Regions from separate parts of the Homo sapiens genome. Here region 2 is linked to region 1. The links come from fine-mapping of genetic effects on gene expression. Tissue or cell type: NK cells. Region 1 holds a variant in brackets; the other region holds the start of a gene. All regions are shown on one strand. Distances are from middle to middle.

Evidence for each region. PIP is the estimated chance that this variant, and not a neighbour inherited with it, causes the effect. A credible set is the group of variants that fine-mapping cannot tell apart.
Region 2: it holds the start of PHLDA3, and the variant in region 1 is the best candidate, but not a certain one, in a credible set for the expression of PHLDA3 in NK cells (Schmiedel 2018, PIP 0.86).

What each region holds. Positions count from the first base shown.
Region 1 is chr1:201,435,838-201,444,013 of GRCh38, forward strand. No RefSeq gene overlaps it. Among named protein-coding and RNA genes, the nearest start is that of TNNI1, 18 kb to the left of the region's middle. The variant T/A (reference allele first, on the strand shown) is at 4,435.
Region 2 is chr1:201,465,999-201,474,174 of GRCh38, forward strand. It overlaps PHLDA3 (pleckstrin homology like domain family A member 3), which reads right to left and starts at 3,190. Exons shown (of 2, transcript NM_012396.5): 1 at 2,343-3,190; 2 at 1-180. The coding sequence starts at 2,788. The coding sequence ends at 2,405. RefSeq lists enhancers at 2,370-2,429, 2,500-2,639, 2,861-3,575, 3,090-3,209 and silencers at 2,710-3,019, 3,230-3,459.

The DNA.
Region 1 (8,176 bases):
GATAAAGTTCTTCTTCTTGCCACCAGAGGGAGCATTGGTGAGCCTTGGTGCATGTGTGTGCATGTGTGTGCGCGTGCCTGTGTGTGTGTGTGTGTGTGTGTGTGTGTGTGTGTGAAGAGAGAGAGAGAAACAGAGAGAGAAAGGGAAAGAACGTGTGGGTGACTTGTTTGTGACTGACTATATGCCTGAGATCGCTTGGGTGTGAAATTTTCAAAGTGGCTGATTGTATGTGAATGTCCCTCCTCCCTCCACCCACATGATAAACAATCAAAAGTGTTTCCAGTCCCAGCCTCTTATTCATCACTCCCTGAACCTTCCCTGCACGCTTGTTCACAGCTAGGTGATCTGGGTGGATTCCAGGGCTAAAGCTTGGAGAGCAACAAATACAGTTCATGTGAGAGAAGCGTCTTGCAATGCAGTTACTGTAACTCCAACATAGTTGCTTTGGACCTGTCTATCTTTCTTAAAGTGAGGTCTCCCTGTAATCCCAGAATTCCCTTGAGGATCTAAGTGTTCTATGGTTCTTAACTTTTGGAAGGGGGTTCAAGCTTCCTTTGAAAACTTTTGCAATGCAAAAGCATTCACACACATCATTTTGAAAAGCCAAAAGCTATTCCACACCAATTCCAGCGGGCTCAGAGACCCTCTGGAACCCATTCAAGGACACACATGGGAAGGAGGCCTGTAGTGTGTGCACAAGTGTCTCTAAAGACTTCAAGATGCTTCATCCCAGGAAGAGACACCAGCTGCAGTAGCCCCTGCTCCTCTCTGGGCGTGGCCAACAGTGACACTGAGAAGTGGAGAGAGCTTGGAGAGAAGGCGGCTGACCCTAGAGGGAGGTGTGGAGCCAGGAGTGAGTGGATGGTCCCTGATGCCTCAGGAGACCGAGGTATGAAGAAAATTCCCGTTTCCACTATTGAAGGATATTGAGGTTCCCAAGGTGCCTTGCGGAGTCCAGGGAGCCAAGAATCTCACAGCCTGTAACAAAATGATATTCACTCCCAACTCCAGGTGCAGCCACCTCAGAATAATTCAGGGGGTTCAGCCTGGAGTGAAGTATACTCTTGCTATACCCTCCCTGGTATCCTCTCCACCTACCTTGATAAATGTGAATTTTTTGTGATGCAGTCTAAAATCCAGACAGAAGGGAAGCCTGCTTTTCCTGCCTTGTTGGCCACATGAATATATAAAAACTCCCCAAACATTTATAATACATGCAATAACGTGTTTTAATGTCATACTGAGAAGGTAGTGATTAATTCTCTCAGAGGGGACTCAAGAGAAGATTTGCAGGGGGCATAAGCCCTGAGCCAGGTTTTGTAGGATGTATAGGAGTTCATCAGGCAACCAAGGACAAAGGGCACTACAGACCCAAGGAACAGCCTGGCCACGGCACAGTGGCCTAAGAAAGCATGGTGTGTGGGGAACTCTAGCAAGTTTACTCTCACTATGGAAGAGACGAAGGTTAAGAATAAGCCCCAAGGGGCATGGATGTGTTTTGTTTTGTTTTGTTTTGTTTTGTTTTGTTTTGTTTTGTTTTGTTCTTTGGAGACAGAGTCTCACTCTGTCATCCAGGCTGGAGTGCAGTGGTGCAATCTTGGCTCACTGCAACCTCCCCCACCCCAGTTCAAGCGATTCTCCTGCCTCAGCCTCCCGAGTAGCTGGGGCTACAGGTGCCCACCATGCCTGGCTAATTTTTGTATTTTTAGTAGAGATGGGGTTTCACCATGTTGGCCAGGCTGGTCTCGAACTCCCGACCTCAGGTGATTCACCCTCCTCAGCCTCCCAAAGTGCTGGGATTACAGGTGTGAGCCACCACACCCAACCATTGATGTGTTTTAAAGGGAGGCAGAGGAAGAAACTCAGAAGAGGAGAGAAAAAGAGACAGGGCTAGAATAAGATTAGTATGATGTCACAGAAGTCAAGGGGAGACAGAGTCCTGAAGGGACTATTAATATAGTTAATTAATGTGATATTATTAATTTTATTAATAATTAATATAACACTAAAGTCCTCAAAACCCTCTCTGGAAAAAAGCATAGGCCACAGATCCTACCGTGGTTTGTGTTTCTTTTTCCTAAGCGTGTCCTCAACCTTGGCAAAATAAACTTCTAAATCGACTGAGATCTGTCTCAGACACTTGTTGGTTTACAAAACATACAATGCAAACAACAGAACAAAACATCAAAAAACTATGATTAATATTTCCAAAGACAGAGAGATAATATTGCACCCATGAAATGGGAAGAGAATCCATACAAAAAAGGAAAAAATAACATTCAGAAAACAAAAGGAACTCTTTCTCATTCTTTTTTTTTTTTTTTTTTTTTTTTGAGACGGAGTCTGGCTCTGTCGCCCAGGCTGGAGTGCAGTGGTGCGATCTCGGCTCACTGCAAGCTCCACCTCCCGGGTTCACGCCATTCTCCTGCCTCAGCCTCCCGAGTAGCTGGGACTACAGGCGCCCACCACCACGCCCGGCTGATTTTTTGTATTTTTAGTAGAGACGGGGTTTCACCGTGTTAGCCAGGATGGTCTCCATCTCCTGACCTCGTGATCCACCCGCCTCGGCCTCCCAAAGTGCTGGGATTACAGGCGTGAGCCAACGCGCCCGGCAAGAACTCTTAATAATTAGGAATATGACAGCAACAATAACATGTTAATTGGAAGGGCTAGAAAATAAAGTTGAAGAAAGATTCCAGAGGCACAAAAAAAGGATGGAAAATAGATCAAGAAAGATAAGAAAATTCAAGATCATCCAGGAAGTCCAATATTTTACTACTTGGAACTCCAGAAAAACAAAACAAAGAGCTGGAAATGGAGATAGTTACCAAAGAAATTGAACGCACAACGTTCCAGGGGCTAGGGCTTACCAAGTCCCAGCTGTATTATTCACAAAGACCTAAGGCACGGGAGACAAAGAGAAGACACTTGAAACTTCCAAAGAGAAAAATGGGTCACATACAAAAGATTCAAAGTTGGATAGTTTTAGGCTTCTCAAGAGCAACACAGGAAACTAGAATACAATAGAAAAATCTCTTTAAAAAATTTTTTTTTTCTTTTTTTTGAGACAATCTCCCTCTGTCACCCAGGCTGGAGTGCACTGGAACAATCTCGGCTCACTGCAACCTCCGCCTCCCGAGTTCAAGCAATTCTCCTGCCTCAGCTTCCTGAGTAGGAAGGATTACAAGCACGCACCACCACGCCCAGCTAATTTTTGTATTTTTAGTAGAGATGGGGTTTTGCCACACTGGCCAGGCTGGTCTCAAACTCCTGACCTCAAGTGATATGCCCATCTTGGCCTCCCAAAGTGCTGGGATTACAGGCATAAGCCACTGCACCTGGCCCAAAAATTCTAAGAGAAAATAATTTTCAACTAGAATTCTATGTATGCCCAGGTAAATTATCAATTAACTGTCAAGGTAGAAGACAGATATTTTCTGGCTGGGTGTGGTGGCTCATGCTTATGGTCCCAGCACTTTGAGAGGCTGAGGCAGGCGGATCACTTGAGCTCAGGAGTTCAAGACCAGCCTGGCCAACATGGTGAAACTCCCGTCTCTACTAAAAATACAAAAATTAGCCAGGCGTGGTGACACATGCCTGTAATCTCAGCTACTCTGGAGGCTGAAGCAGAAGAATCACTTGAACCAGGAGGCAGAGCTTGTAGTGAGCCGAGATGGTGCCACTGCACTCCAGCCTGGGCAACAGGGTGAGACTCAGTCTCAAAAAAAAGAAAAAAAAAAGAAGCAGAAGAAAGATATTTTCATATATGCAAAGTTTCTAAATTCTCTTGCCTCTTTTCTCAGGAAGGTACTAGAGATTGGGTTTCACCAAAACGAAGGAGCAAATCACCAAAAGGCAGGCATGGGGTTCAGGGAATTTGGGATCCTGTAGGTAAGAGGCAAAGGAAATTCCCAGGACAGTGGAGAGGGAAGCTCTAGGATCACTAACAGCTGTATATGAGGCCCAGTAAGTAACTAGCACAGATTAGAGCGGGAGACTGGGGGCAGGCGAGGGGTATGGAAGAAAAAAAAAAGAAAAGAGAGAAGAGAGAAGAGTGCTCATAACTTCCTCACAGGTTTGGATCTACTGAGCCCTCTAGGCCAAGAGGAAAAAGAGGCTAATTTAGTCATGAAACATATATAGACAACTAAGCAAATAAAAACACGGCAAAACTTAACTTCAGAGAAAACCAAAAATCATATAAGTAGGGAAGGTTAATCATAATATACTACATGGGATGTAAGAAAATTTATCTAATCAAAGTTATGTAACTATTTTTAACTTAACCAAAACTTGAGATGAAACTAAATGTATTGAAAGGATGGGGGATGGGTTTGCATGGGGGCTGGGGTGAGGTTTGCACTGTTCTTGCCTTCCGTCACAAGAAGTCAGTTTAGATAGTATGTATTTATTTTTTTAATTAATTTATTTATT[T/A]ATTTATTTATTTATTTATTTATTTATTTATTTTTAAGATGGAGTATCTCGCTCTGTCGCCCAGGCTGGAGTGCAGTGGCGAGATCCCGGCTCACTGCAACCTCTGCCTCCCAGGTTCAAGTGATTCTCCTGCCTCAGCCTCCTGAGTAGCTGGGACTGCAGGGGCCCGCCACCACACCCAGCTAATTTTTGTATTTTCAGGAGAGACGGGGTTTTGCCATGTTGGCCAGGCTGGTCTCAAACTCCTGCCCTCAGGTGATCCCGCCTCGGCATCCCAAAGCACTGGGATTACAGGCATGAGCCACCACACCTGGGCTAGATAGTATTTAAACTGAAAAATCTACAAAGAGCACTATCAGGCTGTTGTTGCAAATACACATTGGAATATCAGAAAAATTAAGTGGCTGCCTTTGGGGAGAGTGGGGCACAGGAAACTGCTGTTTTCATTATAAGAAATGTGGCACTTTTTCATCTTTCTAAACTGTGGCCATTCATTGTCTTCATAAAAATTAAAATCAGCTAATAAAAAGAAGCACGTGGGCATACATGAGGAAGTGAGAGAGTGAGCTTCTTTTTCAAGGAGGTTGGATTTTAAAATATGTAAAGATAAATAGAACAAATATCTGAGGTGGACACGGGGTCAAAGGAGTAGTTGTTAGGATGACAAAGAAGTGAGCATGTTTATAGCAAAGAGAAGGTGCCTGTGGAGAAAGAGCTAACAGGAACAGAGGATTGTTGTTGGGAGGCATTAGTGCCTCCCAACAACATCTTCTTTAAAAATAGAAAAATCCATCCTAAAATTTATGTGGAACCTCAAAGGACCCTAAAACCCAAAACAATTGTGAAAAAGAACAGCAAAGCTGGAGGTCTCACAGTTTCTGATTTCAAAACTTAGCTACAAAGCTACAGTCTTCAAAACAGTGTGGTACTGGCATAAAGACAGACATATCAATCAATGGAATAGAATAGAGAGTCCAGAAACAAACCCTCGCATATATGGTCAAATGATTTTAGACAAGGGTGCCACAACCCTTCAGTGGGAAAAAGACAGTCATTTCAACAAATGGTGCTGGGGAAAGTGGATATCCACATGATAAAGAATGAAGTTGGACCCTTACGTAACACCATATGCAAAAATTAACTCACAATGGACCAAAGACCCAAATATAAGAGCTAAAAACTACAAAACACTTAGAAGAAAATGTAGGGCAAAACTTTACGACATTGAATTTGGCAATGACTTCCTGGATATGACACCAAAGGCAGAGGCATCAAAAGCAAAAATAGACAAATTGGACTTCATAAAAATTGAAAACTTTTATGCATTAAAACACACTACCAACAGAGTGAAAAGGCAACCTGCTGAATGGGACAGCATACTTGCAAATCATGTATCTGATAAGATATTAATATCCAGAACATATAGAGAACTACAACTCAACAACAAAACAACCAACCAGATTAAAAAATGGTCAAAGGACTTGAACAGGTATTTTTCCAGAGAAAATATATGAATAGTCAATAAGCACATGAAAAGATGCTCAACTTCACTAATTGATAGGGGAAATGCAAACCAAAACCACATTCCACCTCACACTCATTAGGATGGCTCCCATCAAATACACAGGAAATGACAAGTGTTGGTGAGGATATAGAGAGATTGGCACACTAGTGCACTGTTGTTGGGAATAGAAATACAGCCACTGTGAAAAACACTATGGCAGTTCCTCAAATATTAAAAATAGAATTACCATATGACCCAGCAATTCCACTCCTGAGTGTAAGAACTGAAAGCAGGATCTTGAAGAGATATTTGTACACCTGTGTTCATAGCATCATTATTCACAATAGCCAAAAGGTAGAAGCAACACAAGTGTCCATCAACAAAAGAATGGAGGCTGGGCACGGTGGCTCACACCTGTAATCCCAGCACTTGGGGAGGCCAAAGTGGAAGGATCACTTCAGCCCAGGAGTTTGAGACCAACCTGGGCATCATAGTGAGGTCCCACCTCTACAAGAAATTAAAAAAAAAAAATTAGCTAGGCATGGTGGCTTCTGCCTCAGCCTCCCAAGTAGCTGGGACTACTATAGTAGGGAAGCTGAGGCAGGAGGATTGTTTGAGCCTGAGAGGTTGAGGCTGTAGTGAGCCATGATTGTGCCACTGCACTCCGGCTTAAGTGACAGAGTGAGACCTTGTCTAAAACAACAAATGAATGGATAAACAAAATGTGATATATACATACAATGGAATACCTGTACACCTGGGCAACAGAAAGAGACCCCATCTAAAACCAATAAGCTTGTGAATAAACAAAATGTGATATATACATACAATGGAATATTATTCAGCTTTAAAAAGGAAAGAAATTCTCACACATGATATAACACAGGTGAACCTTGAGAACATTAAGCTAAGTGAAATAAATCAGTAACAAAAAGGCAAATGCAGGCCTGGTGTGGTGGCTCATGCCTGTAATCCCAGCACTTTGGGAGGCTGAGGCCAGCAAATCACTTGAGGCCAGGAGTTTGAGACCAGCCTGACCAAAATGGTGAAACCCCGTCTCTACTAAAAATACAAAAAAAAAAAAAAAAAAAAAAAAAAAACTAGCCAGGCGTGATAGTGCATGCCTGTAATTTCAGCTACCCAGGAGGCTGGGGCAGGAGAATCGCTTGAACCCAGGAGGCAGAGGTTGCAGTGAGCCAACATCGCATCCCTGCACTCCAGCCTGGGTAACCAGGTGAGATTCAGTCTCAAAAAAAAAAAAAAAAAAATAGAGACAAATGCTTTATGATCTACTTATAGGAGATTCCTAGAGTGGTCAAATTCGTAAGGCAGAAAGTAGAATAGGGGCTGGGGGAGGGGGCGTGGGGAGTTATTGTTTAATGGGTACAGAGTTTCAGCTTTGCAAGATGAAAAGAGTTCTGTGGATGGACAGTGGTGATGGCTGCACAACAATGTGAATGTACTTAACACCACGAAACTCTACACTTAAACATGGATGGTTAATATGGTAAATTCTGTTAAGCATACTTGCCATAATAAAGAAAAATTGAAAGAGAAAGGAAAAAAGAAAAGAGCACCAGTGGCCAGATTGGCTTCAACAGGAAAAGGAACATGATCCCTGAGGCAGGAGGGGAGAGAGGTGTGGATAGAGAGAAGCTGGGCATTTGTATGGAATCAGGTTAAGCGCATCCAATAGTTGGCTTTCTCAGGGAAGGAAAAGGTAAGGGTGTTTGTTAAAATGCAGGAAAAGTGGGGGCCAGGTGGGGTGGGGTGAGGATGAGGAAGCACGCTCACCCATGCCTGTCTTAGGGCTCCTCTGAGTCAGGGATGCACATAAAATATATGTCTGGAAACCAAAAACAACTTAAAAACCATTCAGATCTTAACTAAAGTCCCTTTCCCCTTCTGAAAAAAAAAAAAAGTCAAAGAGGCAATTACATTCATGATGCCCAGCCTTCTCTCTGCCTCTGGATCTCACACACCAGAGCAGCTTTCCCAGCATCTTCGTCTCATTCCTGCTCCCTGCACCTGGAAGCCTCTCTCCCAGCTGTGCCCCTGCAAACCCTGCTTCCCCAGGCCCAGAGCCCATGGGAGGGAAGGAATGGGCTGAGGCAGGCAAGGCCTAGTTCCACAGAGACACTCAGGGCCAGGGAAGGATTTGATGGCTGTCCGGGGCCAGGGAGTCCAGACGGTGACCTTAGTGCAGGCGTCTGAAGCCTGAGAGAGGGGAAGGGGCAG
Region 2 (8,176 bases), 30 kb after region 1:
TCCTGAGAGTCTGGGACCATCCAGGGGCTGCATCTTCATCCTCAGCCCTGCGTAGCCTTCTGCCCTCCTCCCAGGGCTCGTCCATTCCTTCAGCTCCAGCGCCTCCTCCACACGTCCATGCCTTCCACCTTGCCACATGGAGCACAGCCGTGCCCCCACAAGCCAGAGGGAACAACGAAGCTGGCAAGAAAGAACAGCAGTTAGAGCAGGGGCAACAATGGAGAAAGGAGTATCTATTATGAGCTTGGGCATTTTACACCAGCACTTCCCAGCCTTTTCCATAAACATGGAAAACATTTTTTGCATACGTACTGTGGTAAAGGAATCTGCTTCCTCCCAGGCCCCCAAGACCTGAGGGATCAATGTGGATCAATCCTCAGCACAGGGGGTCTGCCTTATACCCCACTTCTCAGCTAAACCCTAACTACAATGTGGGAGGGCATTAACAGGACCATCAAAGTGGGGTATGGCACTAGATGGGGCCCCAGGCTCACTAGGACTCTCTACTGTTGAAGACATCTGCAGGCGGGTAAGGTCGCCTAGGAGGTGGTAGTGGGGAGAGAAGGATCTAGGTTTCCACTGGAAAAATTAAGGCTAGAAGGAAGGCTAAATCCTTTCTCAGCCCTACTCCTACTTCTCACAAGAAGGGAGTGGCATCTGGGGAAGAGGGCACAGGGCTGAGAGCCAGGGCTTCCAGATTCTATTCCTGGCCCCTCCCCTGGGCCTTCCTGACCACAAATCCGCCCCCCACTCCCTGCCCTACTGCTCATAGAGGATTAAGACATCACAAATAACAACTCATGACCCCATCCTGCTGCACCCACCCACCCTGCCCCAGTGCCCCATGCCCTCCTCCAGCTTCTCCTTCCCTGGCCCAGCCAGGCCTGACTGGCACTCAGGGGCAGGTAGACAGCTAGGCCCCCACCCCTTGGCATCAGTGGCCCAGCCTCTGGCGCAGTTGCCTATCCTTCAGCTCCCTTGCTCTCCTAACAGTGAGCCCTAGGGCTCAAAACCCACTGTCAAGAATGGGGACCAGGTGTGGTGGCTTACACCTGTAATCTTAGCACTTTGGGAGGCCAAGGTGGGCAGATTGCTTGAGCTCAGGAGTTCGAAACCAGCATGGGCAACGTGGGGAAACCCCAAATCTACAAAAAAAAAAATTAGCCAGGCATGGTGGCGTGTGCCTGTAGTCCCAGCTACCTGGAGGCTGAGGTGGGAGGATCGCTTGAGCCCAAGAGGTTGAAGCTGTTGAGGCTGCAGTGAGCCATGACTATGCTACTGCACCAGTCTGGGCGACAGGTAGAGATCCTGTCTCAAAAATATATATATAGGCTGGGTGCAGTGGCTCACACCTGTAATCCCAGCACTTGGGGAGGCCGAGGCAGGCAGATCACCTGAGGTCAGGAGTTCAAGACCAGCCTGGCCAACATGGCGAAACCCCATCTCTACTAAAAATACAAAAATTAGCAGGGTGTGGTGGCAGGCACCTGTAATCCCAGCTGTTCTGGAAGCTGAAGCAGGAGATTTGCTTGAGCCCAGGAGGTAGAGGTTGCAATGAGCCAAGATCACACGACTGTACTCCAGCCTGGGTGACACAGCGAGACTCTGTCTCAAACAACAACAACAACAACAACAAACCATACACACACACACACACACACACACACACACACACACACACACATATGTAGAGGAGGAGCTGGATCCCTCAGGCCCAGTCCAGCCAAGGCGGCCCACTGAGGCCCCACCTTCCACTGAGGCCCCACCTTGGGAGCCGGACTCCTTGGCTCTATTTGCAACCCTTGATGGTGCCTTCGCCATCTGGGAGATACTGTCTTTCTACATCAATTCAATGCTCAAACTTTATGACAAGCATTCAACCTAGAGGGAAAGAGGGTCGGCCTCCACGATCCGCGTCCCCACCCTCGGTTGTCCTCAGCTGCCAGAAAGCCGAAGTCCAGGAGCCCTGCTCTGCGTGGAAAGCAGAGGCCCACAGCCTGGGGCAATGTGCAGGCCAACCTCCCTCTACTTCCTTCCACCTGAGTCAGGGCTGAACCAACTTGAAAGAAGGCTCATCTCACCCAGGTATCCCCCTCCCAGGGCTTCCATCTTCCTCTCACACACCTGGATCACATTCTGGACCGGCCAACCTGGTGCCTCAGGGGAAAGTCCGGATCTGCTGGGTTGGCCACTGGCCCAAGCCTCCCATGCCCTCAGTTGGCCCCAGGAACCTCCCCCCTAAGATGTCCGGCTCTGAAGTAGAATGCTAGTCCTCATTCTCTCTGTAGGGGAAAGAGAAGGGAGGGAAGGAGAGAAGAGGGCCCAGTCCCCCGGGGGCTTACCTGCCTTGACCTCAGCACTGAGGTGGTGGGTAGCATGAAGGAAAGATGGTGCGCCCGGTGGTTTAGGACACGAGGGTCCCGGTCCCGAGGCTCTGCCGGGCCCGCACTGTCTGGATGGCCTGCTGGTTCTTGAACTTGACCAGGCCTAGGGTGATCTGGGCGTTCCAGCCGGGATCTTCCAGGGGGCAGCGGAAGTCGATCTCGCCGCCCCCTTCGGTCACCAGCGTGAAGTAGATGTGGCGCCCGGTGCTCTCCACGCACTCCACGGCCTTGATGCGGGCGAAGCTGAGCTCCTTGGGCCGGCCGCCCGTGCCCTTGGCCTCGAAGAGCTGCAGCCCGCGTTCGGTGAGGACGCAGCGCTTCCGCTTCCACAGCTGCAGCAGCCCGCCGCTGCGCTTCTCCAGCACGCCCTCCTTGAGCACGGTAGCCGTCGCCGCCGCCGTCATGGGCGCCCCGAGGTTCGCGGAAAGCTCCAGGCTGCGGCGGGCGCGGCGCCCCTCTCGGCCCCGCAGCGCAGGATTCTGGCGCCCCGGGCTGGCAGGCCGTGCGCGCTGCCCACCTGCGCCCTGACTGCTCCGCGCACCCACACCGCGGCCCTCAGCACCCGGCTGCCGGTGAGGTGGTGTCGGTGCCCCCAGCGCGCTCCGCGCCCACCGCCCCGCTTCAGCCGGCACCCGCTCCTCCGCTCTACCCCAGCTGGCCCAGCCCGACCCGCCTCTGCCAGATGCCTCCGCGCCTCCCTAGGCCGTGAGCCCCACCGCCCGCCCGTTCTCTTGCTCCCCTGGGCTCTGTCTGCGCGCTGGGCGGCAGCTCGCGGGATGTGCCCTTACATGTTCCGCCGCTCGCCTCCTGCGCCGCCCGCCCGCAGCGCATTCCTACCCTGGCCGGCCCTCCCCTCCGCGCCGCGCACCAGCTCCGGCAGGGCCCCGGGGGCGGGGCCGCAGCGGGGGCTCAGTCACTCACTGGAGGCGCAGGGCGCGGGGCGGGGAGGGCCGGGACTGAGAGGGGGCTGCTTACTCAACAGCCCAAGCCTTCTGGCTGCCGTCTGCCGCTTCTCGGAACCGCAGCTCCCCCAGGCCTTGAATGAAGGGGGAGATGGCGGGGAAGGGAGGGGGAAGGCGCATCTCCTCGATTGGAGAGCGCGCTGCTAGCAAGGGGGTGGGCTTGCTTGGCGAACGCGCAGTGGCACCAGTTGCATGTTAGGCGTCAGACAGCTGCTGGTTACTTGGCACGCCATGGGGCCCCCAGCCTCTGCATCAAGCCCATGTTGGGTTCCTCCTCCATCGCCCGATTTCTCTGTGCAGCACCCAAGAGAGGCTGTCCATCGCTGCCTCTGCTTGGACAGTTCACCTGCTCCTACTCCTACCCCCATGCATTGCGCGGGGAGGCCTGTAGAGAGTAGCCAGTGCCAACAAAGGAGAGCTGAGGCTTGAGGTCATTCATGCCCTCCTCGTAGTGGGGGAGGAGGGACCCCCTCCGTGACCTGGGGATGCCACTGTCTGCAGTCCTCTCCACCGCACACTTGCAGGCGCCGACGCTGGACCGATGGCACAGCCAGTCCCAGGTGTAAGCGCAGCTCCAACCTTGCTCCTTCCGCTCCGCAGATTCTGTCCTCCCTCGGCCTTCCCCAAGAATGGACTTCTCCCGCATACAGAGCTGGAGGGGAACGCAGAGGGAGAGGTCTCTTTCTGTTCTGGCTAGAATATTGTGTAAACACAAGAGCTTTGCAGAGTTGAGTTCAAACCTCTTCTCCCTTGTTGGCTGTGTCCTGCCCACCTGGGGCAACTTTACTGACCTCCGTCAATTTCCTCATCTGTCGAATAGGAGGATTAATTTATTCTCATCTCATGGGGTTGTCCTGATGAATAAGTTGGATAACATTTGTGAAAGACCCAAGACAGGACCTGACAACTCTTGAGTCTCAAGAAATGTTCTTCCTCCCCTCTCCCCACTCTTATTCCCTTTAGAGAATGATGGGGGCCCTGAGATTAAGCCAGGCACTGGAAGAGGGCTCTCTTAGGTCCTCATTCTGTCCCCATCTTGATCAGTTCCTCCAGGCCCACAGTTTCTTAAAGGTCTATTCATCAACATGTTAATAATAGATTCTTACGGGAGTAATGATATATAATAATGACAGTAATAAGACCTCTTTGTACTTACACCCTGTGTTGCCATCCTCCTGCCCAAAGAGCAGAGCCTAACAGATACAGGGAAGGTCCTGTTGTGGGGATAGGAGTGCGCTCCTCTGCAGTCCCAAAGTTAGGAGATGAGAGAAGGGAACTGTCAGTGTCTCATCCATAACTCTTTATACACACACACACACACACACACACACACGTGTGACGACAACTAACTCCTAACTCCCAGAATGCCCCTCCAGGAGAGGGAATAGACAGTGGCATTAAAGAAAAGACAAAGACAGGTGTCTCCTGAGGCCCAGAGAGCAGCAGAAGAGGGAGCTCGAGGTGGCCACGGCCCTACCTGAGGGACCCACAAGGTCTCAGCCTGCCTGCCAGCCCTGCCCTCCCATGGCTCCTCCCCACCACTCCACAGGGGTCTCCTGGGTGCACCAACCTGGCACAGTCCTGCCATGATCCAAAGTTCTCTCTCTGAGGAAACAGGGCCCTAGATCAGGCTCTACCCCTAACTCATTTTTTTGTTTTGTTTTGTTTTTGTTTTTGAGACGGAGTTTTGCCCTCGTTGCCCAGGCTGGAGTGCAACGGTGCGATCTCGGCTCACTGCAACCTCTGCTTCCCAGGTTCAAGCGATTCTCCTGCCTCAGCCTCCCAAGTAGCTGGGATTACAGGCATCTGCCACCACACCTGGCTAATTTTTTGTATTTTTAGTAGAGTCGGGGTTTCTCCATGTTGGTCAGGCTGGTCTCAAACTCCCCGCCTCAGGTGATCCGCCTGCCTTGGCCTCCCAAAGTGCTGGGATTACATGCGTGGGCCACTGCTGTTTTATCTCTACCAGTTCCTCTTCTCCCCACACTGGGTCTGGGACTCATTCATGCTCTTTCCAGTTCCAGGTGGATTCACAGTTGTATGGGCTTCGTACAGAGCCCTCTCACATGTTGTAGATGCTCATGATAGACAGATATTATTATCACTGTGGGCGTTTTACCGATGAGAAAAATGAGACCCAGAGAGGTCAGATAATGTAAATGGCGTCACATGGCTTTGAAAATGGCAAAGTCCAGATGAGAATGCATGGTGGCTAACAGGGCCCAGGATCGTTTGATGATACATACCCATACTGCCCATACATGAACATCTGAGTCCACATAGTTCCTTTAAAAATGATCCAGTCACCCATACTTTTCTCTTCAGCTTACTGAGTTGCGAGGTAGCGGGCTTTTGGACACAGGAGAAGGGAACATTGGATAGCAAGAGTGAGCAGATAAAGATGGGGGTGGGGGGCCATTGGAGGAAATTTAGCAGGACATACTCTACTGCTGGAAGGGTCTTCATCAGCTAAGCATCCAGTTCCTAACACGACAACGTCTTCCTGGAGGCCTGAATGGGTCCTTGGAACCTGGAATCCTGTCCTCCAATCTCAAGACCTCTGGGACTAGGGGAGATGATTCATTCCAAATCTTTCCCTAGAACTGGCATCTTGCCTGGTAGCCACATCTGGGAGAGGCTCAGGCCCAGGCTGGATTATTTGGGCCATCAGAAGGATCAAGAAGAACTCAAAAGCCAGGGGAGCAGCGTGCAGAGAGGGCTGGTGCTGCTCCTCCCTTCCTGCTGAGGTATCCCTACCCATCCCCTGGAACAGGAGCTCTGACTTAAACTTCTTGGTTAAGTCACTGGGCTGGAGCAGTGCTGGGCCCTAGAGATACTTACCCAATTCTTTTTTTTTTTTTTTTTTTTTTGAGATGGAGTCTCACTTTGTCACCCAGGCTGGAGTGCAATGGCACAATCTCGGCTCCCTGCAACCCCCGCCTCCTGGGCTCAAGTGATTCTCCTGCCTAAGCCTCCCGAGTAACTGGGATTACAGGCGCCTGCCACCATGCCTGGCTAATTTTTGTATTTTTAGTAGAGATGGAGTTTCATCATGTTGGCCAGGCTGGTCTCGAACTCCTGAGCTCATGATCTGCCCACCTCAGCCTCCCAAAGTCCTGGGACTACAGGCGTGAGCCACCGCGCCCCATCACTTACTCAATTATCATTGACTTGTTAACTCCACATCTGGCTGATGGACAAAATGTCCCATGGTAGCAGCCCAGAGCTGGCTTCTCCCTCTGCCCACCCCAAAGAGAAAGCAGATCTGCACCGTCAGTAAATCCAAGTCCGGCTGGAACAGGCTAGACTACAAAATGGCCCCAGGGAAGAATGTGCTGGAAATGGTTCTAGCTAGGGCTGAGCCACACCACCTCCACACCTGTGTGAGAAGGAGGAAGTCCAAGTGGAGAGGAGGGGTCCCTCTGGGTGGCTACCCAGGACAAGGCGGAAAGAAAGATGGGAATAAGGCGGGTTAGAGGTAAGAATGAGACCCAGAGAGATGCAAAAAGTAACATAGCTTTTGTTTTCTATATTTACTTAATTCTTTTTTTTTTTTTTTTAGATTGAGTTTTGCTCTTGTTGCTCAGGCTGGAGTGCAATGGCACGACCTCGGCTCACTGCAACCTCCACCTCCCGGGTTCAAGCGATTCTCCTGCCTCAGCCTCCCTAGTAGCTGGGATTACAGGCGCCTGCCATCATGCCCAGCTAATTTTTTGTGTTTTTAGTAGAGACGGGGTTTCACTATTTTGGCCAGCCTAGTCTCGAACTCCTGCCCTCAGGCGATCCACCAGCCTCAGCCTCCCAAAGAGCAGGGATTACAGGCATGAGCCACTGCGCCTGGCTGTCTACTTAATCTTATATAAATTCTTCATAAATTGTTAGACTCAATCTAAAGAAAAGTGTTGAAGACAATTTATTAACAAAACAAGACGTACATTAACACTGCAAAAACTTTAAAACTAAGGATGATATCACTCCTTTGCTCAAAAGCCACCAGAGTCTTCTCATCTCATTCTGAGTAAAGCCAAAGTCATTGATGCTACCTGCAAGGCCCTCTAAGACCTGCTCTTCACTTTCTGATCTTACCTCCTGTACTTTCCTCTATCCCTGGCTCCAGCCACAGTCCTCACCATCCCTTGAACTTGGCAACCATCCTTCCTCAGGGCCTTTGCACCTGCTGTCCTCACTGTCTGGAATCCTCTCTCCCAGATCACCAAATGGTTCATTTTTTCACCACACTAAGCTGTGTTCACGTATTACCTTCTCAATGGGGTCTTCTCCCAACACTGTGTTTAAAGCCACAACCCCCTTCCATAGATGTACATACACACACTGTATCCCGTCCCTGCTCAATTTTTCTCTATGGCACATATTAGCATCCACAATTGTATTTTTCTTACTTATTGTCTATCTCCTTTACTTGTGGGCTCTATGCCAGCGGGGAGTTTGTTTTTTGTTTGTTTGTTTTTTTGAGGCAGAGTCTCGCTCTGTCGCCCAGGCTGGAGTGCAGTGGCGCGATCTCAGCTCACTGCAAGCTCTGCCTCCTGGGTTCACGCCATTCTCCTGCCTCAGCCTCCTGAGTAGCTGGGACTACAGGCGCCCGCCACCATGCCCGGCTAACTTTTTGTATTTTTAGTACAGACGGGGTTTCACTGTGTTAGCCAGGATGGTTCCAATCTCCTGACCTCGTGATCCGCCTGCCTCGGCCTCCCAAAGTGCTGGGATTACAGGCGTCAGCCACCGCGTCCAGCCTATCTGTTTTTTTTACCCCTGTGGCTCCAGCACCTAGAACATTGCCTAATACACTGTAGGAACTGAATGAATAATTAT